2 separate regions of the Homo sapiens genome follow, and region 2 is linked to region 1. Evidence: fine-mapped expression QTL. A gene starts in region 1. The other region holds a variant in brackets. All regions are shown on one strand. Distances are from middle to middle. Region 1 holds the start of FAM228B (family with sequence similarity 228 member B). Region 2 overlaps ATAD2B (ATPase family AAA domain containing 2B).

Region 1 (16,339 bases):
TATTTTGGCTCACTGCAACCTCCACCTCCTGGGTTCAGGTGATTCTCCTGCCTCAGCCTCCTGAGCAGCAGGGATTACAGGTACCCACCACCACACCCAGCTAATTTTTGTATTTTTAGTAAAGACAGGATTTTGCCATGTTGGCCAGGCTGGTCCTGAACTCCTGACCTCAAGTGATACACCTGCCTCGGCCTCCCAAAGTGCTGAGATTACAGGTGTGAGCCACCCCATCTGGCCTGTAATTCTTTACTTCCCAAATTTTCTACAATGATCACGTATAATTTTTTAGATAGAGAAAAATATTTTTTTAAAAAGGAGTAAAGGAAACAAAAGTCAGTCATAAGACAACTGGCTCCTGAGTGGATATCAGCCTTGTCCATCCTTCCTGATCATACGACCATTTCCAAGATAGCTGTCCCTTCCCAGAGCAGTGGGATATTAATGGCGTGATGCCAGCAGTGCACTTCTAACCAGGGCACATTCTTTGGAGTCTGTGGAGTTTTTTGTGGCCCTAAGCAAGAATACTAACCTTTAGTGCCAGCCACATGACCTACATTACAGTAGTCAGGCAATTTATCTGGTCTCCTCTGGGGAATTAGCCCTGAGCCCTAGCTGACAGGGTAAGAGCCTGGCTTCCTGACAGCCAAATTGCCCATCTTTCTAATCTCATATTCTGGTTATTTTAATTAGATAATTAACCTGGCTCTCTATGTCTCTGTTCTGCTCTCTGCTCCTGCCCTACAATTCTGAAATGGAGCCTCCTTCAAATCCTGACATCTGTTCAGGAAGGGTCCAATAATGCAAAATGCAATAAAATGAGGCATATCTGTACATAGGTATATAGTTTCTGTGATAAACTTAATTTCTCAATTGGCCCTTTAAGATTCAGCTCTCTGGCGCCTTCCCTGACTCTGCTAGGCCGAAGTAATTCATTGATTTATTCATCAAACATGTACTAATTGCCTACCCAACATCAGACACTGTGTTAGGTAATGGAGAAAAAGAAGGATTAAGACAAGACAAATGCCTTCCAGGGATTCACAATCTAGATAAACAAAGAACTGTAATGGGGATAATCATAAAGGTATGCATAAAATACATACCACAATGGATAGAAGCCTGAGATCTGACTTGGTTCTTTAATGATGATTAGGAATTTGCAGAATAGATGTGAGGGACAGGAAGGAAACAGAAAATATTTTAGGCAGATAGAACAGCATGTACAGAGGCATGGAAGGCAGAAGCTATATCTTAACCAGCTCTGCTTCCCTAATTTATCTAGGATAGTGCAGGGCACATGGTAAGTACCTCTGAATGTTTGTTGAATGAATGAATGAATGAATGAGTGGCTGCTTTTGTTACTAGAGGCTTCTGTTTCAAAGGAGTGTTTATGCAACTCCAGTAAACTTTTTAAAATTTAAATTTAGATTTTGAAAAATCTAAACACAAACACAATTTACCATTTATTAAGCTCAACTCTCACCGATATAATACCCAAGCTAGTTCTCTATGAGATCTTTATTCAAAAATGTATAGACACGGAGGGGGAATGCAGTATATACCAACAAAGTGGCTGCCTGACTCACAGTAATTCCTTTTCCTGTAAAATGTCTCTTTATATAGGGTAGACCCCCAGCAGCCACATCTCTGCCTTTTTACCCTGCTGTCTCCCCCCTCCCCTATCCTGCCCCACCTACATAGCTGACTGATACAGGGGTAAACCATATGACCTGAAACTTGCCAAATCAGGGTCCTAAGAGAAATTAAGGGGTATTATGGGAGGCTTGGCCATGATATCAGCCAGGAAAGGAAACAGTTTGCTATGAGACAGAACAAAGCTGACTCATTTAGAAGTCAAGACAGAATCCTAGCAGTGTTCCAGTCCCTGAATCTACCTTCCCCATGGCTCAGCTGCACCCTGTCCTTCCAGTGGCTATGTAAATAACCTCAGCATCCTTCCAATAAATTCCTCCTTTCTGCCCTAGCTGGTTTGAGTTGGATCTCTGTTACTCGTAGTCGGAAGACCCAACTAACATAGGGAATGAAGACAGGAACTAGGAGGCCAACTTACCCAGGCTCTCTGTGGCTTCCACACAGATGCTAGGATACATGCCCTCAGTGTAAGTTGCTACCAGAAGATACAGATGGGTCTTCACGACAACCACACCAGTGTTCTCCTGTATAAAGAATATAAGAGAATATTCTGCTCTTGGTTCTAATCACAGGACCAGTGGTCATGCTCCAGCTACGTTTTTCACCATTTCCTGATTTCCATATGTTTGGAATATATATGGAATATACATATTCCGTATATATTTTCCATATGTTTATATATCTGTTTTTGGACTGTCCACTCTTTTCCACCAATTTAGTTGCCTTTCCTCAAAAAGTTTCAGACTGTTATAATAATGGTAGATGGATTTTGAAAAAGTTCTGCAATTGATTATCATATACCCCATCCCAATTAGAACAACTGATGTAGGCCGGGTGCAGTGGCTCCCGCCTGTAATCCCAGCACTTTGGGAGGCCAAGGCAGAAAGATCACCTGAGGTTGGAAGTTTGAGACCAGCCTGGCCAACATGGTGAAACCCCATCTCTACTAAAAATACAAAAATTAGCCAGGCGTGGTGGCAGGCGCCTGTAACCCCAGCTACTCGGTAAGCTGAGGCAGGAGAATCTCTTGAACCCAGGAGGTGGAGGTTGCAGTGAGCCGAGATCGTGCCATTGCACTCCAGCCTGGGCGACAAAAGTGAAACTCGTCTCAAAAAAAAAAACAACAACAAAACAAAACAAAACAAAACAAAACTGATGTAATGGAAAGGTCGTACATTTTGGAATTGGACAGCTCTGGGCTTGAATTCTAGTGCCTCCTTTTCTGCTGCATGAGTAAGGGTTATTTAACCTTGTTAAGCCTCAGTGTCCTCATCTGTAAAATGAGATTATTTAGTTTATAATGTGGATGAAGCAGCATGCCTAACCCATAATATAGGGCATCCAATGAATGATTTTCATCTCTTTCATTCCTTATAAGCAACAGAGAGCTGATTTTTTTTAAAATTTTTTTTTTGAGATGGAATTTCGCTCTTGTTGCCCAAGCCGGAGTGCAATGGCACGATCTCGGCTCACTGCAACCTCTGCCTTCTGGATTCAAGAAATTCTCCTGCCTCAGCCTCCCAAGTAGCTGGGATTACAAGGGCGCACCACACCTGGCTAATTTTCTTGTATTTTTAGTAGAAACAGGGTTTCACCATGTTAGCTAGGCTGGTCTTGAACTCCTGACCTCAGCCTCCCAAAGTGCTGGGATTACAGGTGTGAGCCACTGTGCCTGGCCACTGAGAAATGTTTTAAGCACAGAAATGATTATCTCTTTTTTTTTTTTTTTTAAAGGAGGATGTAGAGTATGAAGGTGGGACTGTATTGGAAAGAGTTCAGGCAAGGCTCAGTTAATAGATTCTGGAATGAACATTTCTCAAAACCAGGCTCTTGATAGGACTTTCTTTCACATATGTCTTCCTGGCACTAGACTGCTATCTCAAGACAATGGCTCAAGACATTAATGGATTTAATCTGTTTTACAGAAAGGATCAGGCAGAGCAAGGAAATTTGGAGGCAAATTCTTTTCTTTTACTCAGCTCTCTTCAAATCTTGAGCACTCACATTTTTGGCATAAAGAGAATATTCATCTGCCCGGACACATCTGTAATCTTTTCCCTTGAAATACAGTCCTTCTCTTCGGGCTTGCAAAGGGTTCTTGGCAAATCCATTCACCAGTGTTCGGACATCACTGGGCGTTACCTGGAGAGGTTACATGGTTAGAGCAGGAGTCAGCCAACTATGGCTGGTGGCCAGCCAAATTTAGCCCACTACCTGTTTTTTATGGCCTGCAAGCTAAGAATGGTTTTCATGTTTTTAAATGGTTGGGGAAAAAAAATCAAAAGAATAACACTTCGTGACACTTACAAATTATATGAAATTCAAACTTCAGTATCCATAAATATAAAATTTTATTGGAACACAGTCACATTCATTCTTTTATGTATGGCTGTTTTTCCTCTACAATTGCAGAGTTGAGTGGTTGTGACAGAGACTCTACGGCCCTGTGCTATAGTTTGAATCTCATGTTGAAATCTGATTCCCAGCGTTTTCGGTGGGGCCTAATGGGAGGTATTTGGATCATGAATAGACTGATGCCCTCCCTGCGAGCTGGGGGAAGCTGTGAGTTTTCACTGTATTTGTTCCAGGAGAGCTGGCTCTTAGAAAGAGCCTGGCACCTCTCCACTTGCTCTCTCTTGCTTCCTCTCCCCCACTGTGATCTCTGCACATGCTGGCTCCCCTTCACCTCTGCCATGAGTGGAAGCAGCCTGAGGCTTTCACAGATGACCAGTCTTCCAGGCAGTAGAACTGTGAGCCAAATAAACCTCTTTTCTTTATAAATTACCCAGCTTCAGGTATTCCTTTATATCAACAGTAAAAAGACTAAGCCTAGAAACCTAAAATATTTATGTAGCTCTTTACAGAAAAAGTTCATTTAAAAGTCATGTCTGGGCTGGGCACGGTGGCTCATGCCTGTAATCCCAGCACTTTGGGAGGCCGAGGCAGGTGGATCACCTGAGGTTAGGAGTTTGAGACTAGCCTGACCAACATGGTAAAACACCATCTCTACTAAAAATACAAAAATTAGCCGGGCCTGGTAGCGCACTCCTGTAATCCCAGCTACTCGGGAGGCTAAGGCTCAAGAATCGCTTGAGAGGCGGAGGTTGCAGTGAGCTGAGATCATGCCATTGCATCCCAGGCTAAGCAACAAGAGTGAAATTCCGTCTCAAAAAAAAAAAAAAGTCATGTCTGCTTCATTTTTTGGAAGAATAGAAATAATAAGTAAATCAAGTCTTAGGTCCAAACTTGTTTTTTCTTACATTGAAACCTGGTGATGCTACACACAAGCTCCGCTCCTGGATTTTGATGAGGGCTGCACTGTCCACATGCTTGGTTCCCAAGAGGGTGTCTAACAATAAGCTCTGCAAATGGCTCATGTTCCCTCAACTCTGAAAGGGAAAGTGCAGTTGAAGCCATTGACTCTGGCTAGCTTTTAAAAGGCATGTGAATACAAATGTCCTTAAGACACTGCAGACAGTTCTAAGATCAGCAAGTGTACTTTGAAAAGGTACAGGGTGAAAACGGTGGTCCATCATTCAGGGCCCACCAGTACCCAAAGAGGAAAACAGAATCATAGAAAAATCACAGCTCACACAGAATAGGTTATGAAGCTGAGTTTGGAAAATCACAGCCTGGTGATTTTCTGGCTATGTCAATGGTTTACATCAGGATTATCTGCGATTTAAAAACAAACATTACACACTGAGAAAAACTCTGTAAAATAAAAAATAAAAACAAAAAACAAAACCCAGCCAGGATGGAGAGCTACCCTGCTAAGTTAAACACGACTAAAAGAGATTATGCGTGGCCATAAACCCACACATTCCCTTCCCGGTGACCTGCATCAGCGCCAGCTATGAACGCTGATCAACATCCCAATGGACTAAAAACACCTTGAAGGCACTTAAACCCACATTTCCCGCACAAGTCCCCAAGCCTTGGACCCCCCTCATCAGGACCTCCGGCACAGGCGCCCGTTTCCCGCCACTGCCTTCCAGTGGTTTGGTCCCCGAGCAGGACCCAAGGCGGGGCAGGGGGTGGTGAGCGGTGAATTCCCTGGCACCGAGGACTCGAGGGAGCGGACGCCACCCCGCTCTGTGGTGCCCGCAAGGACCCGGCGACCAAGGACCCGACCGTCAACGGACGCGGTTGCGGGTGGGTGGCGGCGGCAGGATTGGCCGGGCCACGCGCCGGTCACCGAGAAGCAGCGACTCCAGCCCCTTCCGCAAACCAAGACCCGCCACCTAGAGCCGCCGCCCAATCCCCTTTGGGCCTGAAGCCGTCCTCCGCCGCCCCGGCACCGCCCGCGCGGACTCGCTGTGGAACCCGCGGCGCAGGGGGCGGAGTGCTCGCGCGGCGCTGCGTCCGGGAGACGGTGGGCGCCAACATTCGCGCGTTCCGCAGACGCGGGCGGGCTCCCTTCCAGCCGCAGTCGGACGGCTCCGGGGTCGTCGGGCCGGGCCCGAGTGTGTAGCAGGACGGCCGCGGGCCTGCTGGCCTTGGGAGGGCAGAGAGGTGCCTGTCGCGGCCGGCGACCTCCCCGCCAGGCCGGGCGGTCCCCGCGCACGACGCGCCTGCGCGGGAGGCCCCCGGCCCGGGGCTGGCGTGGAGGCCGCAGGCGCCCGGCCTAGTGGGTGGGAGGAAGGGCCGGGAGTGGGCGCGATGAGCGAGAGCGGGTGCGGACGCCTACGACATCCCCGTCGCACCCGTGCCTCGGGGAGGACTTCGAGCCGCTCAGAGCTCGAAGACTCGCGCAGTATGACCGAAAGCCCCTCCCTGCCTTCTCTAAGCAGCTCAGCCTGTGTTTCTGTGGCCAGAAAGTTGCAGTTCTTCCCACTCGAGGCCACCAAAGTCAGAAAAGTGTTGCAAATGGGACTCCGAGAGGCCAGGCTGAAGCTGCCACACTGGCTGGAATGGGCTGCCTTGGAGGGGGACGTGGGAATCCATTCCAAGGGACGGGGGATTCTTTCAAAGAGCATCTCGCCTGCTTATAAAGGAGGCTGGCTCTGAAGCCGTCATCTGGAGTCTGTAGTGAAGGCCTCTTGTTAGGGAAACTGGATGGTTAGTGTTCAAAATCCATTTTGCGTGTGTGCAAGGACACAGGTGGTATTAAACAGAAGAGAAAATCAGATGACTGTGAAATGTTCAATACTAAATAAGATGATTTTTAGTTTTTCCAGGGGCATTGTTATTTGTGACCACAATGAAAAATGTAGACAGTGATGATCTGGTAACTGGCACACTTCCCAAGCTCAAGAGCTCAAAAGAATGGTTGGAGCCCAAGCCCCTTTGTTTTATGGAGGTATATATCAAATAGTGTGGGATTTGGAGATTTTTTTACTTGGATCGTTGCAGTAGGAAGTGGCTTGTGCTAAATATATTGTTTTTTCTATTGTTTGTTTTTATTTCATTCTGTTTATTATTCCCTTCACTTTACTAACTTTGTATATTCACTTTGCTGTTTTTTTCTAACATCTTAAGGTGGAATCATAGGTCATTGATTATATACCTTTTAAAATGTAACATAGCTATAAGTTTCTCTTGAGGTACTGCCTTAGCTGCATCACCCAAATTTTGATATGATGTATTTATTTATTTATTTATATTTGAGACAGGGTCTTGCTATGTTTCCTCCTGGAATCAAGCCATCCTTCCACTCCCTAGTAGCTGGAAGTATAGGCGCACGCCACCATGTCTGGCTAATTTTTGTATTTTCTGTAGAGATACAAAAAATCTCTACACTGTGTCGCCTAGGCTGGTCCCCAACTCCTGAGCTCAAGCAATCCACCTACCGTGGTGTTCCAAAATGCTGGGATTATAGCTGTGAGCCCTTGCGCCCAGCCAGTTATATTGTTTTTAGATTGTAGTTTCTTTTTTCTAAACAGCTTTATTAAGATGTAATTGATATACAGTAAACTGCATATATTTAAAGTGTGTGTCTGGCACTGTGCCTCATGCCTGTAATCCCAGCACGTTGGGAGGCTGAGGTGGGAGGGTCGCTTGAGCCCAGGAGTTCTATCTAGACCAGGCAGAGCAATATACTGAGACCCTGTCTCCACAAACGAACGAACAATAATAGCCAGGTGTGGTAGCATACACCTATAGTCCCAGCTGCTTGAGAGGCTGAGGCAGGAGGATTGCTTGACCCCAGGAATTTGAGGCTGCAGTGAGCTGTGATTGTGCCACTGCATCCCCACCTGGGTGACAGAATAAGACCCTGTCTCAAATAAAGTGTACAAACTTGGTAAGTTTTGACATGTATACACACGAAAACATCACCACAATCAAGATGGTGGACATATTCAGTACTCCCAAAGCTTCCTTAATATTCTGTTGTAATCCCTCCCTCACATCCCCCCACCACTGCTTTTCTTTCTTTCTCTTTCTTTCATTCTTTCTCTCTCTTTCCTTTTCTTTTTCTTTTCTTTCTTTCGCTCTATCACTCAGCCAGGAAAACACTGGCGTGATCTCGGCTCAATGCAACCTCTACCTCCCGGGTTCAAGTGATCCTCCTACCTCAGCCTCCTGAGTAGCTAGGATTACAGGCCTGCGCCACCACACCTGGCTAATTTTTTTGGATTTTTAGTAGAGACGGGGTTTCACCATGTTGGCCAGGCTGGTCTCAAACTCCTGACCTCAAGTGATCTGCCCGCCTCGGCCTCCCAAAGTGCTGAGATTATAGGTGTGAGCCACTGCGCCCAGCCTGCTTTGCTTTCTGTCACTCTAGTTTGCATTTTAAAAATTGTATACAAATGGAATCTTACAGTATATATTTCTTTTCCTTCTGTTTGTCTTCTTTCACTCATCATAATTATTTTGCCACTCACCCATGTTGTATGTATCAATACTTCATTCCTTTTTTGGTTGAATGCTATTCCCTTATCTGGATATATCCCAATTTGTTCATCCTGTTTATGGACATTTGGGTTGATTCCAGTTTGGGGCTATTACAAATAAAGCTGTTATGAACATTCATGTGTGTGTCTTTGTATGGACGTATGCTTTCATTTCTCTTGGGTAGATATTTAGTTGTGGAGTGACTGGGTCATATGGTAAATGAATTTAACTTTATGAAGCTGCCAAACTAGTTTCCAAAGTCATTGAATTATTTTACATTCCCACTAGTAGTGTGTGAGAGTTCCAGTTGTTTCATAATCTAGCCAACATTTGGAATAGTTTTATTTATACTGATTTATTGTATGGCCTTTTTAACTCAAGACATTTTAAAAAGATGTATAGTGACATCTCATTGTGGTTTTAATTTGCATTTCCTTAATGACTGATTATGAGCATCTTTTCAAGTCTTACTTGCCATTTATCTATCTTCTTTGGCAAAGTGTTTGTTCAAATCTTTTGCCCACTTTAAAATTGGCAATTTTAAGTTGGGTTGTTTGTATTCTTACTGTTGGACTCTTCCTATTGAGATATAATTTACATGCCATAAGATTCACTACTTTTTTTTTTTTTTTTGAGACAGAGTCTTGCTCTGTCGCCCAGACTGGAACGCAGTGGCGTGATCTCAGCTCACTGCAAACTCTGCCTCCCCGGTTCACGCCATTCTCCTGCCTCAGCCTCCCAAGTAGCTGGGACTACAGGTGCCTGCCACCACACCTGGCTAATTTTTGTTTTTGTATTTTTACAAAAAAAAAGTAGAGAGGGGTTTCACCACGTTAGCCAGGATGGTCTCGATCTCCTGACTTCATGATCTGCCCGCCTCGGCCTCCCAAAGTGCTGGGATTACAGGCGTGAGCCACCGGGCGCCCGGCCAAGATTCACTACTCTAAAGTGTACAATTCAGTGTTTTTTATTTTTTTTTAAATTCAGAATTTTTATTTTCAGTGTTTTTTAGTATATTCACAAATCCGTGCAACTGTCACCACTATCTAATTCCAGAACATTTCATCACCCCCAAAAAGAAACTTCACACCTTTTAGCAGTCACCCCCCATTCCCCTCCCTCTCTGGCTCCTGGCAACACTGATCTACTTCCTGTCTAAACAGATTTGTCTACTCTGGACATTTTATACAAATGGTATCATACAATATGTGGTCCTTAGTGACTGCTTTCACTTAGTATAATGTTTTCAAGGTTTGTCCGTGTCAGAGCATAAGCAGTACTTTATTCCTTTTGATGACCAAATAATATTCCATTGTCTCAGTATCACATTTTGTTTATCCCTTCATCAGTGGATGGACTTTTGGGTTGTTTCTGTTTTTTTGCTGTTATGAATAATGCTGCTATGAACATTTTGTGTAACTTTTTAGGTAACATGATTGCAGTTCTCTTGGGTATGTAACCTAGGAGTGGAATTGTTTGTTGGGTCATATGGTAACTATATGTTTAACTTTTTGAGGAACTGCTGAACTGTTTCCCACAGCAGTGATACCGTTTTAAATTTTCATAGCAATGTATGAAAGTTACAATTTCTCCACTGCTCAGAGTTCATTGAACTTCTTGTATCTGTGGGTTTATAGTTTCTGACAAATCTGGAAAATTTTCAGCCATTATTTCTTTTTTTTTTTTCAGCTGAGTCTCACTCTATCACCCGGGTTGCAGTGCAGTGGCATGATCTCAGCTTACTCCAACCTCCGCCTCCCGGGTTCAAGCAATTCTTGTGCCTAAGCCTCCCGAGTAGCTGGGATTACAGATGTGCACCACCATGCCCAGCTAATTTTTGTATTTTTAGAAGAGTTGAGGTTTCACCATGTTGGCCAAGCTGATCTTGAACTCCTGGCCTCAAGTGATCCGCCTGCCTTGGCCTCCCAAAGTGATGGAATTACGGGCATGAGTCACTGTGCCTGGCCTATTTCTTAAATTATTTTTTCTATTCCCTCCATCTTTTGGGAAATACAACTGTATGTACAATAACCTGCTTGAAATTGTCCTGTAGCTCACTGATATTCTGGTAATTTTCTTCAGTTTTTCCCCCGTGCATTTCATTTTGGAAAGCTGCTGTTGCTATGCTTTTAAGTTCACTAACTTTCTGTAATGTCTAATCTGCTAATAAACCTACCTAGCATATTTTTATCTCAAGTATAATTTGTGTCCCTAGAAGTTTTATCTGGATTCTTTTGTTTCGTTTTTTGTTGGTTTGTTGCTGTTGTTGTTGTTGTTGAGACGGGATCTCTCTATGTAGCCCAGGCTGGTCTTGAACTCCTGGCCTCAAGTGATCCTCCTACCTTGGCCTCCCAAAGCACTGGGATTACAGGTGTGAGCCATCATGCCTGGCCCTTAGCTCTTTTTCAAACATTTTTTTCTGTCTCAACATGTCTAGTCTTCTAGCTTCCCTAACTTATGAACTACAGGAATAATAACTTTTAATGTCCTGGTTTAATAATTATAGTGTCTTTGTCATTTTGGGGGCAGTTTTGGTTAATTTTCCTTCTTATTATTGGTTAAATTTTCCTATTTCTTTGTATACCTGGTGATTATTGGTTAAATTTTCCTATTTCTTTGTATGCCTGATGATTTTTGATTAAATGCAAGACTGTGAATTTTAACCATATTGAGTACTAGATATTTTTGATTTGCTATAAATACTCTTTTTTTTTTAAGTACAAGTGCACAGATTTCCCATAAATATTTTTCATTTTTCCCCTTGGATTCAGTTAAGTTACTTGGACACAGCAGGATTCTTTCAGGTCTTGCCTCCGAGTTTTGCTTGACAGGACCACAGCAGTATCTACCGTAGGGCCAATTTTGTTTCAGTACTGATACAAAACCTCTCCAAATACTCTACTCTATGCACTTCAAACTATGGGAATTTTTTTTTTTTTCCTCTGGCTGATGCTAAAGGGAACAAACACTCCTGGGACTGTGTGACCTCTAGGGATTGATTCCCTAATTCTTGCAGGTGTTTCTTTGCCCATTGTTCCTTTGGGCATGTAGTGTTTACGATCAGCTGAAGACTCAAGGGGACCTCTGCGGTTGACCCTTTGCAGTTCTCCAGAGCTCCATCTTTCTTGTAGCTCTCCTCCCTCTAGTACTCTAACCTATGAACTCCAACTGCTCTGGCCTCTCCAGACTCCCATCCCCACTCCTCAATTCAGGCAGACAGTTGGGCTGTTTGTTTTCTATTTCTCAGGGGCCACTGTTCTTCTTTGCCTGATGTTCGATATCTTGGAAACTGTTGTTTCATCTATTTTATCTTTTTTTTTTTTTTTTAGTTGTTTCAGGTGGGAGAGTAAGTCTGTTTCCTGCTACTCTGTCTTGTTCAAAAGTGAAAGTTCTCATCCAGACATTATTTTTTCAAACAGTTGTTTCCTGCTCCATTCTTTTACTCCTCACTTCTGCAACTCTATCCATTTGCTGAATCGTTTGATATTGTCTCATAGGTCACTATGACTCTGTTTATTATTTTCTAATCTTTATTCTTCCTTTTTTTTCAGATTGGGTAATTTCTAATAGTCTGTCTTCAAGTTCACTGACTATTTTTATGTCATCTCTAATCTGCTACTAACCCATTGAGGTTTGTTTATTTCTCAAATTTAAGAACTGTATTTTCCACTTGGTTTTTTATCATTTCTATTCTCTGCTAAGATTTTCTATTCATTAATTATAAGCATATTTTTAAGCATAGCTATCATAACTGTCCTCAAATCCTTGTCTTCTTTTTTTCAGATTTTCATGTCAATATAATTTTCTTTTTATTTTTCTTATTTTACTTTAAGTTCTGAGATACAAGTGCAGGACGTGCAGGTTTGTTACATAGGTATATATATGCCATGGTGGTTTGCTATCAACCTGTCATCTAGGTTTTAAGCCCTGCATGCATTAGCTGTTTGTCCTAATGCTCACCTCCCCTCACCCCCAGCCCTCGACTGGCCCTGATGTGTGTTGTTCCCCTCCCTGGGTCCATGTGTTCTCATTGTTCAGCTCCCAGTTATGAGTGAGAACATGCGGTGTTTGGTTTTCTGGTTCCTGTGTTAGTTTGCTGAGTATGATGGCTTTCAGCTTCATCTATGTCCCTGCAAAGGACATGATCTCATTCCCTTTTATGGCTGCATAGTATTCCATGGTGTATATGTACATTTTCTTTATCCAGTCTATCATTGATGGGCATTTGGGTTGGTTACATATCTTTGCTATTGTAAATAGTGCTGCAATAAACATACATGTGCAGATGTCTTTATAGTAGAATGATTTATATTCCTTTAGGTACATACCCAGAAATGGGATTGCTGCGTCAAATGGTATTTTTGGTTCTAATATCCTTGAGGAATCGCCACACTGTCTTCCACAATGGTTGAACTAATTTACATTCCCACTAACAGTGTAAAAGTGCTCCTGTTTCTCCACAGCCTCACAAGCATGTATTGTTTCTTGACTTTAATAATCACTATTCTGACTGGCATGAGATGGTATCTCATTATGGTTTTCATTTGCATTGCTCTAATGATCAGTGATGTTGAGATTTTTTTCATGTGTTTGTTGGCCATGTAAATGTCTTCTTTTGAGAAGCATCTGTTCATATCCTTTGCCCACTTTTTGATTTTTTTTTCTTGTAAACTTGTTTGTTTTTTGTAGGTTCTGGATATTAGAGCTTTGTCAGATGGGTAGATTGCAAAAATTTTCTCCCATTCTGTAGGTTTCCTGTTCATTCCAATGATAGTTTCTTTTGCTGTATAGAAGCTCTTTAGATTAATTAGATCACATTTGTCAATTTTGGCTTTTGTTGCAATTGCTTTTGGCATTTTTGTCATGAAGTCTTTGCCCATGCCCTGAATGTTATTGCCTATGTTTTCTTCTAGGGTTTTTATGGTTTTGGGTTTTACATTTAAGTCTTTAATCCATCTTGAGTTAATTTTTGTATACAGTGTAAGGAAAGGGTCCAGTTTCAGTTTTCTGCATATGGCTAGCCAGTTTTCCCAGCACCATTTATTAAATAGGGAATGCTTTTATTAAAGGAATTCTTTATTAAAGGGGAATCTTTTCCCCATTGCTTGTTTTTGTCTGGTTTGTCGAAGATCAGATGGTTGTAAATGTATGGTGTTATTTCTGAGGTCTCCATTCTGTTCCATTGGTCTATATGTCTGTTTTGGTACCAGTACCATGCTGTTGTGATTACTGTAGCCTTGTAGTATAGTTTAAAGTTAGGTAGCGTGATGCCTCCAGCTTTGTTCTTTTTGCTTAGGATTGTCTGGGCTATATGGGCTCTTTTTTGGTTTCATATAAAATTTGAAGTAGTTTTCTCTAATTCTATGAAGAATGTCAATGGTAGATTGGTGAGAATACCATTGAATCTATAAATTACTTTGGGTAGTGTGGCCATTTTCATGATATTGATTCTTCCTATCCATGAGCATGGAATGTTTTTCCGTTTGTTTCTGTCCTCTCTTATTTCCTTGAGCAGTGGTTTGTAGTTCTCCTGGAAGAGGTCCTTCACATCCCTTGTTAGCTATATTCCTAGGTATTTTATTTTCTTTATAGCAATTGTGAATGAGAGTTTATTAATGATTTGGCTTTCTACTTGTCTGTTGTTGATGTATAGGGAATGTTTGTGATTTTTGCACATCGATTTTGTATTCGGAGGCTTTGCTGAAGTTGCTTATCAGCTTCAGGAGCTTTTGGCCTGAGATGATGGGGTTTTCTAAATATAGAATCATGTCATCTGCAAACAGAGACAATTTGACTTCATCTCTTCCTATTTGAATACACTTTATTTATTTCTGTTGCCTGATTGCCCTGGCCAGAACTTCCAGTAATATGTTGAATAGGAATTGTGAGAGAGGGCATCCTTGTCTTGTGCTGGTTTTCAAAGGAAATGCTTCCAGCTTTTGCCCATTCAGTATGATATTGGCTGTGGGTTTGTCATAAATGGCTCTTATTATTTTGAGATATGTTCCATCAATACCTAGTTTATTGAAAGTTTTTAACATGAAGGGATGTTGAATTTTATTGAAGGCCTTTTCTGTATCTATTGAGATGATCATGTGGTTTTTGTCATTGATTCTGTTTATGTGATGGATTATGTTTATTGATTTGCATATGTGGAACCAGCCTTGCAACGCAGGGATGAAGCCAACTTGATGGTGGTGGATAAGCTTTTTGATGTGCTGCTGGATTCAGTTTGCCAGTATTTTATTGACAATTTTCGCATTGTACTTCAACAGGGATATTGGCCTGAAGTTTCCTTTTTTTGTTGTATCTCTGCCAGATTTTGGTACCAGGATGATGGCCTCATACAATGAGTTAGGGAGGAGTCCCTCCTTTTCAATTGTTTGAAATAGTTTCAGAAGGAATGGTACGAGCCCTTCTTTGTATCTCTAGTAGAATCCAGCCATGAATCCCTCTGGTCCTGGGATTGTTTTTTTTTTTTTTTTTTTTTTTTTTGGTTGATAGGCTATTAATTACTGCCTCAATTTCAGAACTTGTTATTAGTCTATTCAGGGATTCGACTTCTTCCTCGTTTAGTCTTGGGAGGGTGTATGTGTCCAGGAATTTATCCATTTCTTCTAGATTCCAACATATGGGTCATTTCAGAGTTGGTCTCCATTGATTGTTTTTTTCTTAAGTGTGGATCACATTTTTCTGTTTCTTTATATATCTAGTAATTCTAGATTACATTTTGGACATTATGAATGATACATTGTGGAGGGTCTGGATTCTGTTATATTCCTCTGAAGAATATTGAGCTTTTGTTTTAGGAAGCAGTTATCTTTGCTGAACTCAATCTCCAAACTTGTCTTTCCTGAAGTTGGCAGCAGATGAAGTCACGGTTTAGTCTTTTTTTATCTTAAGCTGGGCTACATGGAGTCTGCCTTATGCATATACAGTTCAAGAGTTTGCCAGATATTTGGTCAGAGTTCTTTTGCAGAATTTGTGGCATCCTTTCTTTGGCTCCCTCTTTTCCAGTATTTTTCCTCTCACCTTCCAGCTCCCATGCTTACCCCAAACTCTGTCTTCTAATTCCTGAACCAGTTAGGCCGCATGTTTCTATCTGAGTTTTAGCCACCTCCTTTACCTCAGACTAAGGCCCTTTCTCAGGCAAGTTAATAAAAAACTGGAAATTCATCTAGTGCTGTTTTTTTTTCTTGGTGTTGAATAGCATTCAGTAACTTCCTGCTTTTTGATCACTCTCCAGTGTCTTCAGGTTGTTGTTTTTTATATTTTTTATCTGGAATGTTAATTCACTACCCCCTATCTGAGTACAGACTTTCCAGGAAGGGCAACTCTATGAGGCAAAAATAACAAAGAAAACAAACTAGAGTAGACTCATTTGAGTTTTCTATGCTTCTAGTTGTTGCTTAGCTCCCATGAGCCTTGGCTTCTTTGGATGTTAATGGGGAAGGACAGTTCTTAGATAATGAGATTTTACTCATCTGTCCTGGAAATAAAAGCAGTGGGACTGAAGACAACTACTTTCACTGACAGTTAACTTGAGAATATTTTATTTGTATGTAATTACATGAGGATCTCAAAGGCAATTCTGTGCTAGAAATCAACTGCTTCCATTTTCTGGCAGGTATTTAATAATTGTGGAACATTTGTTATAAAAATGGAAAAATTAATGCTGTCATAATTTTGTCACTAATATCACTGTTCCCTAAAGATTGTGTTATTTCAAAATCTGAAAATGTGACTTGTATATAAAAATAGGATTTGACTGGGCATGATGGTGGCTCATGCTTGTAATCCTAGCACTTTGGGAGGCTGAGGTAGAAGCATTGCTTGAGCTCAGGAGTTT
Region 2 (16,339 bases), 370 kb before region 1:
CATTAATACTGTTATTCAAGGACCATACCAGAGCTCGTTTGCAATTAAGCATACAGAAAATGAATTTTATGGAGCTTCTGATGAATTCCTCTCTTTTCTGTCCATTTGGCAAGTCCTGGCTTTAAAACAAAACAACAATTTACTACATATGAAAACCATTTTTCTCTGGGAACTCAAACATGAATAACTATTAAATTGCCACTGACAGAAGAAAAAATGGCCACTATCTATTTATTTTCTAGTCATCATTGTTGGCAATACCAAAACGTGTGCAGTTTTGTTTTTTGTTTTTTTGTGTGTGGACTGTGTATTATTCTTTGTTGTTATTCATGTTTCTTAAACCAAAACAGACCTTACAAGAAAACTTACCATTTTAGTATATTATGTGGCTTACTGGGTGTCTTGATTGAGCTTTGAGAATAAGACAGGCATTTCATACCCAAACACTGGTTGTCTCTTAATGACATAGAGTATCAAAACTTATTTTCAAGGTTGTGACCAAAGAAATATTTCTAATTTATTTGCTTCAAACAGCCCATCCTTTTAGCCTTATCTTCCTCAAATGAATAAAAAGGCACGTTAAAGGCAGTTCTAAAGAGCCTGACCTAATTTCATCCAGTTTCTTCAGCTTCCCACCAGAACAGACCATAGCCAACTCTAAAACAGGTTTCAGTCCATTACCCAGATGGGGGAAAAATATGATTAAAGGGGTAAAATGGAGGAAAAAAAAATAACAAGTTGCCCACTGTTTAAACAATTCAACACAGTTAGAACTGCCCCCATCCAGTTTCCTCCTGTTTGCTGGTCTGCTCCCTAAGAGAGGAGTCTCCAAAAGAGAGTGCACAAAAAGAGGAGCAGAAGCGAGAGCAGTTTCTGTAGCACCAAAATCTCCAAGCTGTGGGGTTGTATTTTTTATTTGTGGAAAATACAACATGTTTCTGAAGTTCTGTTTGGTTCTTGTAGGCTGGTTGGTTTCAGGTACCTGAGACAATAGCACCAAATTCAACAGAGAGAAAGAATGAGTGAGAGAGCACTTTACACCAAGGCTCTGCACATAATTGGTGCAATTTGAAATTGAATGGCTCAGAAGACTGCTCTGTGAGGAGCAGATTGGAGAGGATAAACCACTCATCTTGAAAAGTTCATAGGAATGTCTCAAACATATGAACTGTTCTTTCCATCTCCTATAAAAGGAAAAAAAATGCATGTTATCTATTAAGGGAAAGACAAAAGTGTTCCTCATTACGGAAGAATTCACTTTAAATTTTTAGGGAATGAATTTGAGATACAGGTTAAACTTTGAATATTTTCCTGATTATAATACCATAGGTAATTAAGACTATCTCCCCTAGATACTTCCAAGTACCTCCTATTTTATATTTAGGCCAATAAGGATGATGATGATGGTCACACTCAACAAATAACTAACTTATTATGCCAGTAATATCAGTATGAGGTATGATATGAGTAATATGAATATAAGGATGATGATAGCAACACTTAATGAGTAAGTTATTATGCCAGATATTTACTAAGAGATTTCTATATATAAAATACATAAATATAAGTAAATATTTATATTTATATGTATGCATATATATATAATTTATATATATAGTTTTAACTCCCATAACATTGAAGATTGAACAAACGTATTACTATCAGGTCCATTTTACAGATAAAGAAACTGAGGCACAGAGGGGATAAATAATTTGACAGCTAACAGGTGGCAGTCAGGATTTGAATACAGGCAGCCTCACTCCAGAGACTGAGCCCTTCCTTCCTCATTATATTTCACTAACTCCCAAAGCAAAATGAATGCATTCAGTATAGTGAAACTTATGCCAAAAAGCAGAATGCATTGTGTTCCCACTTCTATTCACTCCAACCAGAGCTGAAAAGACAGGGTTAAAAAAGAGCCAGAATGAGTGGCTTCCATCACTACCACCATGAAAGCCACTCACTGCTGATTCTGTTATCAATCCCTTCCCTCCCTAAACTAGGCCTCTAGATTATTAGGATTCCACACTGAGATGTTTCACTGGTGAGGAGTATTTAATGCATTCAAGCTAATAAAACTGCAACCATATGAACAAAGAAGTTCTAGAATTAAAAAAAATGTGAATAACTCTACCCCGCACATTTTATTCAGGTGGGCAAATGTCAAATACATCTAAGACACTTGCATTTTTTCCTTCCCTTTAAACAGCTCCAAAGAAATTCTATTCTACATCTCTGCAAAACTAACAGGCTGTATTAACAGATCATCATCCGATCAACAAGTTCTTCCATGTGGCCAACAAAAATCACTCCTGCTAAATGTTTTATCATATATTGCCAAATAAGAAAAGAAAATTACACATGAAAAATAACTATATCCTTTACATATAAATCTTTAATATACTAAAAATATTCTTTGAGAGCAGAGACTTTGTCTTACTCATTTTTTGCATTCCAAACACCCAGCACAGCATCTGGCACTGCAGGTACTCAATAAACATTTAATAGATAGACCACCAGATAAACAAACTAACAGGCAAATCAACAAAGGGAGTTGAATTAAGTCATTTAGCCATTTTGTGGGTAGATGAGTGATTACATTTGCTCAGATGACCTGAAAAGGCAGAAGTGTGGTTTAATGATGGAAATTATATAAACAAAGATAGAAGCTCATATTTATACAGGAAGAATTTCCCTTGGTTTAGAGTTGTCTAGAAAGGGAATGTCTCATCTCTAAAAGTATCTCAGCAAAAGGACAGTCGCTCCTTCATATGGCTAATTTATAGGACTAGATTTGACCAAAATAAGATGACTTTTGAGTTATCTTCCAACCATTAATGGCAAATAGGTCTCACTACCCATGCCAACGCCTTTATATCAGCAGTGGCTACCTAGGAAGCAGTGATAAGGAGTGTGGGGCCATGACCACATCCGACAAGCCCAAGTGACAGGCTCAATTGGCACGTCAGTTATAAGCAAGTAGGGAGAGAATTGTGACATACTATTTCTGTATATTTACCACCCTAGAACCATGGATTTCTGTGTTTTGACAAAAAAAAGGAACCCCAGATTACTTCTTTCCAGAGACAAAATGGTACAGAAAGGCTTTATTCTTCAAACTGTAACTCTTAATGATTTTTGTCTTAAATCTTCAAAACATTCTTCAGCTACTTGGTAAAAGACATAGATGTAGGCAAAATAACTTTTTTTCCTCTTTTCTTTGGAACAAGTAAAATCAAGTATTTGTTTATTCTACAGATAAACTAAACACTTACCTCTACAAGTTGTGATTTGTCATAATCTTTACGATGACGGTAGATACACTGACTAAGAAGAGAATATAATCTCTCAAGCTGATCAACTGCCAGATTGTTGCTTTTATCCACCAACAAATCAAGCAATTTCTAAGAAAAAACAGAAAAGAATAAAATGTAATTTGATTTCACTGGTCAAACTGAAATTGTATATTCAAATGGCTAGTCAATAAACACCATAAAGCGAGGATGTAACAGTGAACATGAAATTAAAAGATTTGAGGGCTTAAAATCATTCCCTTAGAATATCTTGGACTACTCCCGTATCTTTCAACTCCTTAAAATACACATAACTCTTTTTTACTAGGAGCTCTGAGGCATTTATATTTCAGGGTTAAAGCAGGAAAACTACTTTTACTCAACTGCCTACAAACACATTCAAATCTCCGTCCATTCATTTAAAACTTGACTGGGAATAGCTAAGCTTACCTTCAATCTCTCACGATCAACTATAAGAGGAGGCACAGGCTCAGATGGCTCTTCTGGAACCAGTTCCAGGCTTGTCGTTTTTGCCTGCTCTAAAATTAATTTACGGTATTTCTTTACTTTAGAAGCACCTATAATTGAGACAAAAAAATACACTGCAGCAAGTAAAAGTTAAGAAAAACCAGTCTTAAGCAGTTATAAATTCTTTTACCTACCACACAAATCCCTTTTGGAATGAGGAAGGGTGTATTCTTAAGTGATTTTTTTTAAAGCAACCCAATGTGGTAGATTTTTTATTGGTAAGACTAAGTAACCCAAATTAAAGAAAACTAAACTACAACTTAAAAAGCCAAGTCATACTAAAGTATCACCTAATAAGCATATCCACTAAAAGGAAGATAAAAGCAATCTTCACCTCTAAGCACTGACTTAACAAACAGCCTTCACTCTATGACAGCTACCATTTTACAACTGGGAGCTTTCAGAACCACAAGAAGGGAAGCAACCTAGAAAAGCAGATACTAACAAAAGTGGGGCCCACCTGTCTACACATTTGCCTCCCAACCTAAAACATTCCCTTCAGCATTGCCTGAAATTTCTTGTCTGTTACACTGCCTAAAATTCTATTAGAAATTGATTCAGAGTTTAACATTTTTTTCTTAAAAATATAAACCCATTAAAAGTGTAATAGGGCTGGTGTTCTTTCCTACCTTAGAGTAAATTAGTGTAATCTAATTACTTTCCTCCTCACATTTTGCTGAAACCAGCCACACTAAACAAACAGAAATTTTAAGGTGGCTAAGCATAATTTCACGAACCCAGGCATTCTGAGGGGTACAAAGGGTGGGTAGACCATGGAGCCCTGTGCTCCCCTAAGTAGGACTACTCTTAAGAGGAGGATGAGTGAGGGGAAGGAACACAAAGACAAACTTGGACTGTTTCAGAATTTCATACAGGATGTGGCCCATGTCAGGGACACTAAGGAGAACATATTTATTAAGTGTCTCAATGCAGGGACCCGCCTCCATCCTACATTAGTCCTCTTATTTCTTACTCCCAAGTCTTTAAACTCATCCTCCTTCTCAATGCCTGCTTTATAAAACAAACAGCAAACGAACCAAAGTATTGCCTTCAAAAACATGTATCATGATATATCAGAGAAATTTTATATTTCAGGCTGCTTTTAATGTGAAAGACTTCATAGTTCAATTACCATATGCTAGGAGTTTTGTTAAAATCATATTGATCCTCATTACTACATCCATGGACTTCTAGAGGCCTGAAAACTCAGATTAGGATACTGTCCTGATAATTCCAAATGAAAGCTTCAGGTCAAACTTTTACACAACAATTATCTTTATAGTGTTTAGATCACCAACTGAACACAATATTAATTTAAGCCTTTTTCAGCACGCTTATGGAAATCTCATAGAAATCAGCATTAAAATAGACTCCTCTATCCCCACCCATTCGGCCTCATACCAGATTCCTTCTCCACTTTTCCCATGCTGTTATATTCATTACTTAACCCTAGCTTTAACATATTTTTAAAGTTCTGTCTATCTGATAGCCCAGAATGAATACTGCTCTGAAAACTATTTTAGTATTAAATATTGAAGAATAAGACAAATGTTTAACAGGTAGCATTTAAGAACAGTAAATTTCTCTTTATCCATTAAAGGAATTCTTAGACTTTGAATAATATTTTCCTGCTTCCTAACTCTGCTAAAGGACTTAAAATACTGGCAGAAAAAAAAAAAATTTTCCCACATAGCCCAAATCCCAGGCTGAAGCTGTGTTCTCCACTCCACACAATTTAGAGAAAATAATATAATTTTAGGATAGCCTCCTATAAGAGTACCTATCCAGGAAGGAAATGTATATTGAGCAGGGTAGATATCAACTCATCCCAGACCCTGCTATGGGCTAAAGAATAATGATAAAGACAGGCTAGAAACCCTTAACTCCCTCTTTCTGCTGCTTCTTAAATGAATCATGTAGCCATAAGAAGTCAGAAGCTGGGAGAGTACTCTGATTCCCTGAGAACAAGGTAAACTTGACAATGATTGCTCTGCTTCTTTCCCCCACTATTGGACTTATAAAGCAATGAAGGCTTTTAGACTGAACAGCCCTTGGATTCAATTAACAATGACTTCCTGGAATGAATATACCTTAGTATGTGCCAGTTACCACGAGAGGCAATTAAAATACACGACTTATTTAATCCTTGCAACACCATTCTGAAGTTGAATTTCCTAGATGAATAAATAGGCTTGGAGAGTGTAAATAATGAGCTGAAAGTCACATGATTATAATGAACAAGAGTGGTAATTTAATCTAGGTCTATATTACTCTTCCGAATATATCATACTGCTATTATCACTAAGTCTTCTCTGCCCACACCCAGCCCATGCCAATAATTCTTCTTGGAATTCCATCTTCTTAACACCTGTGGATTTACTCAGCTTTCAGTCATAAATCCCTGAGGCTAGGGGTGATAATCAGGCAGGAGGCAGAAGAGTAAGCGGCCAGTAAAGCAATGCACTCGAAACGATACACCCTCTGAAACTTAAAGCAAAATTTGGTGCATGCCTCTGTGTGTGTGTGTACGTGCACACATGTGTGCTTTTCTAGAGAATAGGATGAAAACTTTAACATATTCTCAGAGGGGTATAATTATTCATCAACTATTACTACTGGGAACCAGATAAAATACACAACGAATTAACTCTGGAGTTTAAACCTTCAGAAGATTTTTCAAATATTAGCTCTACCTTCTTTATCCAGTTCTGCATCTTTAACCTCCACATCAGAGCCAGGTTCTAACTTCTCATTATTGCTACATTCCAGTGCCTCTAGTTTCTCAAGATCATCTCCATGATTTTCAGTCGAAGTTTCTGGTTTTTCTTTTGACTGGTCCTCCAGAAGAATCTTTTGTTCAGAACTACATTTATCTCCACTATCACAGAAAGAAACTACTTCAAGCTTGCCATTCTGACATTCCAGAACTGGTATTCCTTCAAAACTGTCAGTGGAAGCCTCACCATTTAGACAATTTCCTTTAAGGAAAGTCTCTTTCCTGGAGGTCTGCTCCGGGTTTAAGGAACTGCTGCTGTTGACCAGTAGAGATTCATTTGAACTTTCCTCCTCAGTAGATGCAAAGTTCTCTTTTGTGCCTGCTCCATTGTTAAGCCTCTGCCCCTGGTCCAAGTCCATGATGTCACAGGATGATTCATCATTGGTCATAGATAAGTCTCCAGTCTCTTCTCCATTTTCCTCATGGCAGTCAGTGCTTACCTCAAACTCTCCATTCTCTAATAATTTCCTGTCCTCCGTATGGTTCTCATAGTCTGCAAATTTGGTGTCTTCTTCATCTTTTTTTAAATTATTAACTTTCCTTTTCTTAATAATTCCTTTACCCCACTGTGATCTCCGCCTTGATTTTCTCCGAACCCGAACTGTTTTACAAGGAAGGAAAAAAGATATGTAGAACTTGGAATGCAATACCAATTTTACATATGTTTATTAAACAGGACCCAAAAGAAAGTAAACCCATGCTGATGTAACACACAAAAACTACTTAGCTCTTGACATTCATGCTGACTAATCCTTGCAACCTACAAATGGAATGGATATGAAGTCAGGGATGAACTCTGCAGAATAAAACATTTTTTAATGTATTTCCTGTATGAGTTTATTCAGCACTAATCTTTTCTACTATCCTAGATCCTACTTTACTACTGTTCCTAATTTTCAACATCCAAAAGCCACGCATATAATATACACATTTAAAGAATGACCACATTACCAGGCTGCCAGAAAGTTTGGGGCCAAAGCCCTGGATTTCCACCAGGAAGGTGGATGTTTTACTAGCAAAAGGTAGCTCCTAAATCATGAAAGAAAATAAAGACATGATTCAATATAGCATAACAGAACAGTTAAGGGTATCCTCACAAAGAAACCTCTCCTTCCAGAAAAAGGAATCACCCAAAGTTAAGTATGACCATGGATAGATGCCTTATGAAGGTTATTTGGACAATTTGGTGAGCCAACTGTTAATCTCTTCTAGCACAAACAGTTCACCCAGCAGCATCAATTTCTTGCAAAGTTATTTGAGAATATGTAGGAAAACTAAGCCCTCTGCTATCAAGGCAACAACAACAACATAAACAAAACACTGAAAATAAATACTTGGTCACTTATGTGAAAAGGGAGGCCTACAAAAGTTGTAAGGACTATACTCTTAGATGCTAGAAACTATCATGAGCTTTATGAGTAGGCAGCTAGGGCCTCTAGGTATTAATGGACCCTGGAATTTTTAATTTCTCACATATGTATCAAATTGAGGTAGATGGTTAAGCAAGTCTACCTCATTGTCCCTTAAATAAACAAAAAGTTAACTTTTATAATTTGGGACACTTGCATAATACAGTTAAGTGTTCTTCAGAACACTTAAATACAAAAATTATTAAAGCAAACCACTTATGCTAGAGCTGAATCACTTCTGGTATCTAACCCCAAATTCTAAATACTAGTTTGTTGAAAGTATCAGAATAAAAATATTCATTTTTTCTGTGGTTATGAACATAATAATTTTAACTTAAAAAAAGACAATATATATGTTTAATACATCAAAGCTGAAAAGCTTCCTGGGCAAAGATATTTTTTAAAGAAAATATAAATATGAAATCACTAACTGTAGGCTGTTTAATCTGTAGTTTAAAAATTGCTTTATAGAGACAGAAAGGAATATGGTCTTTTAATGACAACCCTTGTTTCTTATATTCACACTGCTTAATATGAATTTAGAATCTATCAACAGTGTAGTGTATTTACATACTTATTTAATCCTTTCATCTTTAATTCCTGCTGCATCTCTGTAAATTCACAAGAAATAGATAAATTTAGTTATAAATATTACTCTTCTTTCTTACCTAAGAATATATCTCCTAAAGGTTTCTGAAATCATCTCCAAAATTCAGGTTATTGAGTCATTTGGCTCAACATGTATTTTTCCTTCAAAACTGTAATCCTGTTAGCACTAACTCTTCATTCTTTTCCCCTATTAATTTCTATTTATATAATTTAAAGTTACAGGGTAATTAGCATAGAGAAGAAAATTTCTGTATTAATCTACTGTTAAAATCTGGTACACAGGCTCAGGTGATGGGCATTTGTAAACATCCCATTAGCTATAAGAAAAACTAATCTAGTCCATATAAAAAATAAAAAGCATTCAGCTTGCTCTGACTCTGCAAGTTAGCGCTATTAGGCTTTTACTACCTGACAGGCCATTCCTGACACCATAACCTCTCTTATTCTGCAACCATGTAACTGAAAGTACAATAGGTTCCCTTTTTCTTTCCTAAGCCATGAAACTAGAGCAAAATGAAGCTGAACTCTGCTCAATCAGGAGTCACCTCAACTACCTGACATGCAGTACATAAGCAAAGGCTGGGAGCCCTGCTGAAGCAAGTTACTGCAGGATAGACCTGGCTAATACGGTAAGAGAAAATGGTCTTAATCTTTGGGAAGTAGGACTGGAGGTATTTTTCTCTTCCTTATATAATTATTTCTAATGGTTGGTATAATTTTGGCAAAATAAGAGAAACAGACCACATTAGCTCCACAAGAAGAGATTTTTGTTTTAGTCACTGATGTATCTTCACAGTACCTGGCATGTGGCAAGAGTATATATTAGTATTTGTGGACCTAATGCTTAATATACCATTTCCAGCTAGGCATGGTGGCTCACACCTGTACTTCCAGCACTTTGGGAGGCCGAGGCTGACGGATCACTTGAAGTCAGGAGTTCGAGACCTACCTGACCAACATGGTAAAACCCCATCTCTACTAAAAATACAAAAAAATGAGCCAGGTGTGCTGGCAGGCGCCTGTCGTCCCAGTAGCTTGGGAAGCTGAGGTGGGAGAATTGCTTGAACCTGAGGAGGCGGAGGTTGCAGCGAGCCAAGACTGAGCCACTGCACTCCAGCCTGGGCAACAGAGAGAGACTCTGTCTCAAGAAAAAAAAAAAAAATAAATAAATTTATATA[T/TACAC]ATACACACACACACACACACACACACACACACATATACACACACACACACACATACACACACACACACACACACCACTTCCTTCATCGGGGTGCTCTGTGTGAAAAGTCCATTTAGAGACACGATCTTTAGAGTCAATTTTTATAGCATCACTGAGTTTGTTTCCAAAACTAAGGCCTTAGGAAAGCAACTACGCCTTAGGGACATTCAGATTTCTTATTTAAGTTAATGTAAAACAGAAAAATTATGGGTCGCATATGCCATCTACTGGTAAGAGAAAACAAAACTCATATTTGTAGATTCAAAAAGTTTTTAAAATATTTAAAGGCACTTAAAACTTCTTCAAGTGAATAGTCAATGTATTTTCATTCATAAATATTTGTAGCAGATGCATAGAATGTAAAGAATTTCAAAGTTTAAATTAGAGTACTACATTACACAATCCAAGTCATGATCTGAAATACAACTAGGCCAAATAGGCTTAATCAGTTTCACGGCATCATCGAGTCCTTTCTCAAACTTTCTCATATACAAATGCCACTTACCAAAAGGGGACAAGCTTTAAAAAGGTGGGTATAGTTTATTCATTCAAATTCAATGCCACTGGTGAAACAACATATTATAGCTAGCTTTACTGACAAAGTAGTTCAGGTTGAGTATCCAAAATCCAACACTTTTTGAGCACTGACATGTCGTTCAAAGTAACTGCTCGTTGGAGCATTTCAGATATCTGATTTTTGGATTAGGGATGCAGAACCAGTAAGTACAATGCAAATATTCCAAAATCCAAAAAAAATCCAAAATCCAAAACACTTCTGGGTCCCAAGCATTTTGGATAAGGGATACTTAACCTGGATTATCACCTTTATACCAGAAAAACAGCATGTATCTTCCAAGGAAGGCTATCTTTAGTGAAACAGAAGAACTCTATTAGAAAGACGCAGTGTTTATTAACATTTGACTTTTGGAAATGTTATAGATCAACATGAATGAGTACAAAAAAACTCCCAATTTTCCCTTTAAATACATCTCACAAAAACTACAAAGAAAAGAAGGCTGTGCCAATTTTTCAAACTGAACACAAAATAGTCTCTCAGAAAAATCAACTTCCTGTTGCCAGATCAGACACACCCACATGCGGGAGTGTCCATTTCCCACCCTAAAGAGAACATCCTGCATAGTGTACAAGGAGTGGAGGATAAGGACAGGGGCATATAAAAATTCTACTGGCTCCACATGGCTATCCAAAAACCAAAGTTTAAAACTGAAAATATTCAAGCCTAGTTCAATTGTCATAGCAAATAATATTGAATAGGGATAGAAAATAACAAATAAAGTTAAAGAAATATATTTCTGATTCAGCATTTACCTCACAAGCTCTTCTTCACCTCTGAAAAGAGATTAAAAGAGCTATGGGAAAAGAGCGGCACTTTGTTTTGTACCCAATTCCTAACATATCTACATCATTCTCAGTTGTTCTCACTACTGGATAACATGAGCTGAAATACTCACATGCACATTTATTTGCAGAGTTGTGCCACACATCCATTGGATTTCTTTGTTTGTGCCGAAATGCCTCTTCGACTCTAGTTTCTGTCTTCCGAGCTCCAGTACTATGAGGATTTATTTGTTCTGATGTTACTGATAAGCCTGCAAGCAGAAGATAAGCAATACCTCTTTAAATATTCCCAGCTACATAAACCAAAAGGTTTTTAAAAAAATCTCAAATACAAAACTGAGTTTTAAAGTCATTAATTATACTAGGGCAGTTTGCAGTTCCAATGAAAGCAGTGTCTTTTGTTTTAAGATGGGTAAGAAACTTAGATATAAAATCATAAAAATAAAACAATCTGGCAGGCCATGTTTACACTTAATCCCCAAAGGGGCCCTATTTTTATTCATTTTAATTCACAAAGAGGCACATTTTACATTATTATGACTGTGGAACAATAAGATTATATATTATCCAAAAATAATGACCTCTGCCATCTTAGAATGTACAACAGTCTACTGGGCTACTAAACCCCATTCCCGTGAACTGTTTCAAAATGCTATTTGCTTCCTGTCGCACCACACTGCAGTCAGTTTGGTTGTCCTGCATTATATTCCTAAGACTAATCATTCTATCTTAATTTTCTTCACTAGAGATTTATTTCTTCTATGTGGTCCTTAAGTTGGTTTTTCTCCAGGTTCTCTCTGTAACCACTTTTCTTCTTACTCTAATCTACACATTCCCCAGCGAAGTATCATTGTGTTCAGGTTCAATTACTATTATATAATAATTCTCAAATCTGTATCTTTAGCCCAAACATCTCTGATCCAGATATACAACTTCTGATCCATATATACAACTCCTTACTTCATATCTCCAACTGAATTTCCTAAAGATAGATCAAATTAAAGATAACTGGTTTATCTTTCCCTACAAAACAAAACAGTTTGTTCTTATAGATTCCCTATCTAGATTGGGAGTATTAGTATCTACTAAGTCACTCAACCAGTAATATGGCAGCCAGTTTTTATTCTTCCTTCACTTCACAGTGCTCTCCATCCCTGCGGCTACATCTCACTTATATTAATCTCTTCTAACTCCCTTCCTACTTCATTAATTAAAACCCTGGACTACTCCAACAGGTTTTTGTTCCCCAACAGCTTTACTGAGATACAATTTATATAACATAAAAATCACCTGTTTTAAGTGTACAATAAATAGTTTTTAGTAGATGTATAGAATTGTAAAATCACCACAGCAATCCAATTTTGGATAACTGTCCCAGGCAATGACTACTCCACTTTTTGTCTCTATAGACTTGCCTTTTCTGGACATTTTATATAAAAGAAATCATACAATATGTAGTCTTCTGGGTCTGGCTATTTTTACTTAGCATAATGTTTTGGGGTTTTTTTTGTTGAGACAACATCTTGCTCTGTCACCCAGGGTGGACTGCAGTGGCATGAACATGGCTCACTGCAGCCTCAACCTTCTGGGCTCAAGCAATCCTCCCAACTCGGCCTTCCAAATGGCTGGGATCACAAGTGTACACCACCACGCCTAGCTAATATTTCTCACTTTTTTGTAGAGATGGTATCTTGCCATGTTGCCCAGGCTGGTCTCAAACTCCTGGGCTCAAGCGATCCTCCAACCTCTGCCACCCAAAATGCTGGGATTACAGGCGTGAGCCACCATGTTCAGCCAGCATGTTTTTGAAGTTCGTCCATGTTGTACTGTGTAACAGTACTTTGTTCCCTTTTATTACTAAGTAGTATGCGCTTGTATGGGTATCCTATGTTTTCTTTACCAATTCACCAGCTGACAGACATCTGGGTTGTTTCCAGTTTGTGGTTATTATAAACAATGCTCCTATGAACATACAAATGTTTATGTGGACATATATTTTCATTTTTCTTGGGTAGATTCCTAAGAGTAGAATCACTGGGTCATACAGTAAATCCATGTTTAATTTTTTAGAAATTGCCAAACCATTTTCAAATGGGCTCCAACAGCTTTTAAACTGATCTTTCATCTTCCTACCCTGGCACATTGAAACCATGTTACTTCTTCCCGCCAAGGCAATTCGACCAATTCATTTCACTGCTTAAAATCCTTCAATGATTTCTATTGCCTATGGCTATCAAACTTTAGTGTACATAAAAACTCTTGGATAGTTTGTTCAAATAAAGATTTCTTGGCCTTAATATTCTCAGAGAATCTAATTCATAGGTCTAAGCTGAAGTGGGTAATAGGCAGACATTTTTGAAAACACTGATCTACAAGATAAATCACAAGCTCCTTAGCATGGCATTGATTTACTCAAATATTTACCGAAAACCTGTTTTATACCAGATGGGGTTCTAGGGACTGGAGCAGAGATATAAACAAGACATTCAAAGTGCTGATATCCTAAATAAGGAGGACACGATCAAAAAACAAATAATATAATGCCAAATGCTACCAAAGCCTCTATCAGATTAGGTGGTCAGGGAAGAGCTCTCTAAAAAGGTAGAAGAAAAGTTTCTTCATAATTTTTGTGTCCTAGACCCCGCACCTCTTGAGCCCTATTTCCAGCATTCTGTATTTCTTTAGCAATACCAGTTTAACACACCTCTGTGCCTTTACATATGCTATTGTTTTCTCTGTGTGCAATACACCTCCTCCTCCTCTATCACTGCCTCCCTAGTCCATTAGAGAGAACACTTCTATATTCACTCCTTACTCTGATCAAAATGCTGGGTTCCCTACTGGGAGGTCTCATCTCTGTGCTCTGAACATGCTTCAACCAGTGCATACACCACACTGTACTTGATTGGTTTTACATTTCTCTCTCTCCTACTAAAATGTGAGTTCCTCAAGGACAAGATTATAAACTGAATTGACAAACCACAATTGCTAATTCTGTGTTTCTAATAACAAAATTGCATATAAATTTCACTAGGGTGGGAAAAACAGTATACCTAAACATGTTTTTAAAGTACCAGAAAGTAAACTGATGAAAAATAAAACCTTTTCATATCTAATATCTAAATCCATTTAGAAATCAATTCTTAAAAAAGATATACTCCTACAAAACAAATTTCAATAAGAAACACTTTATTTCTGTAATACACACTATCACACTAAAACTTTCACAGTAGGTAAAGTTGTAAAATATCTTTGAGAATTTACATAACACATTAGTATCAGAAATTAAATAAATACATTAAATACATTACTTTCATAATACCAGCAATCCTAAAGAAACAGCGTTCAAGTACTCTTGGCCTGAACAGAGCACACTAGGCTTCAGTACCAAGTTTATTTCTACAACTTACCTCTTTTTATTCTTGCTTCCTTAATTTCCTCACAAAGTTTATTAAATTCTGGATCTAATTCAGCTGCAATGATAGCATGTGCAGTGTCCTTCAGGGTACAAGCCCTGTGCCTAATTATTTTATCTGTTAAAAAAGTTGGTATATATTTATTATAGAAACAAATAAAATAACATTAACAAAGGACATCTTAAAAAGTAAAAGAATACAAACAAAATTATAAAAAGCATTGCTAGGTGAGAAAAAGTTTATTTAAAGTATGGGTAAAAAAATAAATATACTAAGCTACTCAGTCAAGTTAGTAATTCTCTGAAAATTATACTTTAAGAACCTCAAAGGACTAAACCTATTACCATTTCTGAAGCAGTCTGGAGAATTACAAGAAAAAGATACATGGTTTCAAATTTCTGAAAACAGAAATATGTGATTTTCAGTAAAAATTTAAAAAGTATTTAGAGGATATTCACCAAATGCCCAGCCCCAGAGTTGTCAGAGATTAATATTAGGAATTCAAAAAAATCTTAAATTTCTCCTAAGTTGACATTGGTCAAAACTATGCTAAAGAATACAATATATTTTAAAGGTGACTTATTTTTTTTTAAATGTGACAAAAACAGAGAAATACAGAAAGACTTTCTAAGCTAAAGGGCACAAGATGGTGTATACATTGTAGGTAGATCCAGGAGAGAAGCATAAACATGGTTCCAGGTAAACTATGCCTAAAAATGGTACTAAAAGAGGAGCCTCTGCTTCACACTAATCCAGAAGTTCCCATTCATAAACAATACAATATAAACAGTGCCCCCTAGATCTGTGCAACTCAGAAATATGAAAAGGCAAGTAATATATCAAGGTAACTAATATTCTAACAGTATCAAGAGCAAGAATCCAGAGTTGCAAAACAACATTTGCTTTTTCCTCTCTAGTAAGGGCAAACAGTATAGACAAAGTTACAGAGACACTTTATAACTTTTCTGATTTGAAAGTTATTATGGCTCATTGTGGTAATCTTACAAAACCAAACATGCACCACTCAAAGGCACCACTGATATTTACTTCCAACACATTTTCTCTAAACATTCACTCAACAAATGTTGTCGACTGCACCAGGGAAAGCTGGATGGTGGCCACCCACAGCAGTGAACAAAACATACATGATATCAACTTTCAAGGACTTTTTCAGACCACTACAGGAACAAATCATCTCTCATACATCCAAATTAACACCTCCTCCCTCCAAAAAAGAAAAAACCCAAAAGCAAAACACCCTGAAAAACAGCTATGAAGAAAACCTACAGGGTACTGGTGTGGGTTCCAATTTAGATTGAGCAAGTCAGGAAGAAGACTCTCTGAAGAACAGGCATTTAAACTGACACTTGAAGCACAGACTGGAGTAGCTACTGAAAGAGTAAGGGGGGAAAAAAAAAAAAACAACTAGTGCAGGTTCAGAAAATACCATGTGAGAAAATCCTGCTGTAAAGAGTTTGGAGATTTCAAGAAACTGAAATGCAGCCAGTGTAGTGTTATGAGTTCTAAATTTCTTTTCAAAGAATCAATATGTCAGTATGTTCAATTCTTTGCCTTCTACTTTTAAACTTAACTTCCTCGTAAAGCAACCTTTTTCGATTACCTGCTCTACCCTGACTCATTCCAATTACCTGCTCCACCCTGACTCATTCCGATTACCTACTCCACCCTAACTCATTCCTATTACCTGCTCTGTCATAACCATTTTTCCCG

What was found. PIP is the estimated chance that this variant, and not a neighbour inherited with it, causes the effect.
Region 2: its variant is fine-mapped to the expression of FAM228B in whole blood (INTERVAL, PIP above 0.99).

Annotation. Positions count from the first base shown.
Region 1 is chr2:24,117,506-24,133,844 of GRCh38, forward strand. FAM228B (family with sequence similarity 228 member B) reads left to right here and starts at 5,964. Exons shown (of 11, transcript NM_001145710.2): 1 at 5,964-6,028; 2 at 6,825-6,955. The coding sequence starts at 6,857. It overlaps PFN4 (profilin family member 4), which reads right to left and starts at 5,829. Exons shown (of 5, transcript NM_199346.3): 1 at 5,613-5,829; 2 at 4,914-5,042; 3 at 3,658-3,795; 4 at 2,072-2,177. The coding sequence starts at 5,030. RefSeq lists a silencer at 5,896-6,395 and an enhancer at 6,466-6,715.
Region 2 is chr2:23,750,904-23,767,242 of GRCh38, forward strand. It overlaps ATAD2B (ATPase family AAA domain containing 2B), which reads right to left. Exons shown (of 28, transcript NM_017552.4): 23 at 14,603-14,725; 24 at 11,306-11,443; 25 at 6,515-7,198; 26 at 3,744-3,871; 27 at 3,276-3,404; 28 at 1-1,184. The coding sequence ends at 1,143. Among named protein-coding and RNA genes, the nearest start is that of ATAD2B, 170 kb to the right of the region's middle. The variant T/TACAC (reference allele first, on the strand shown) is at 9,794.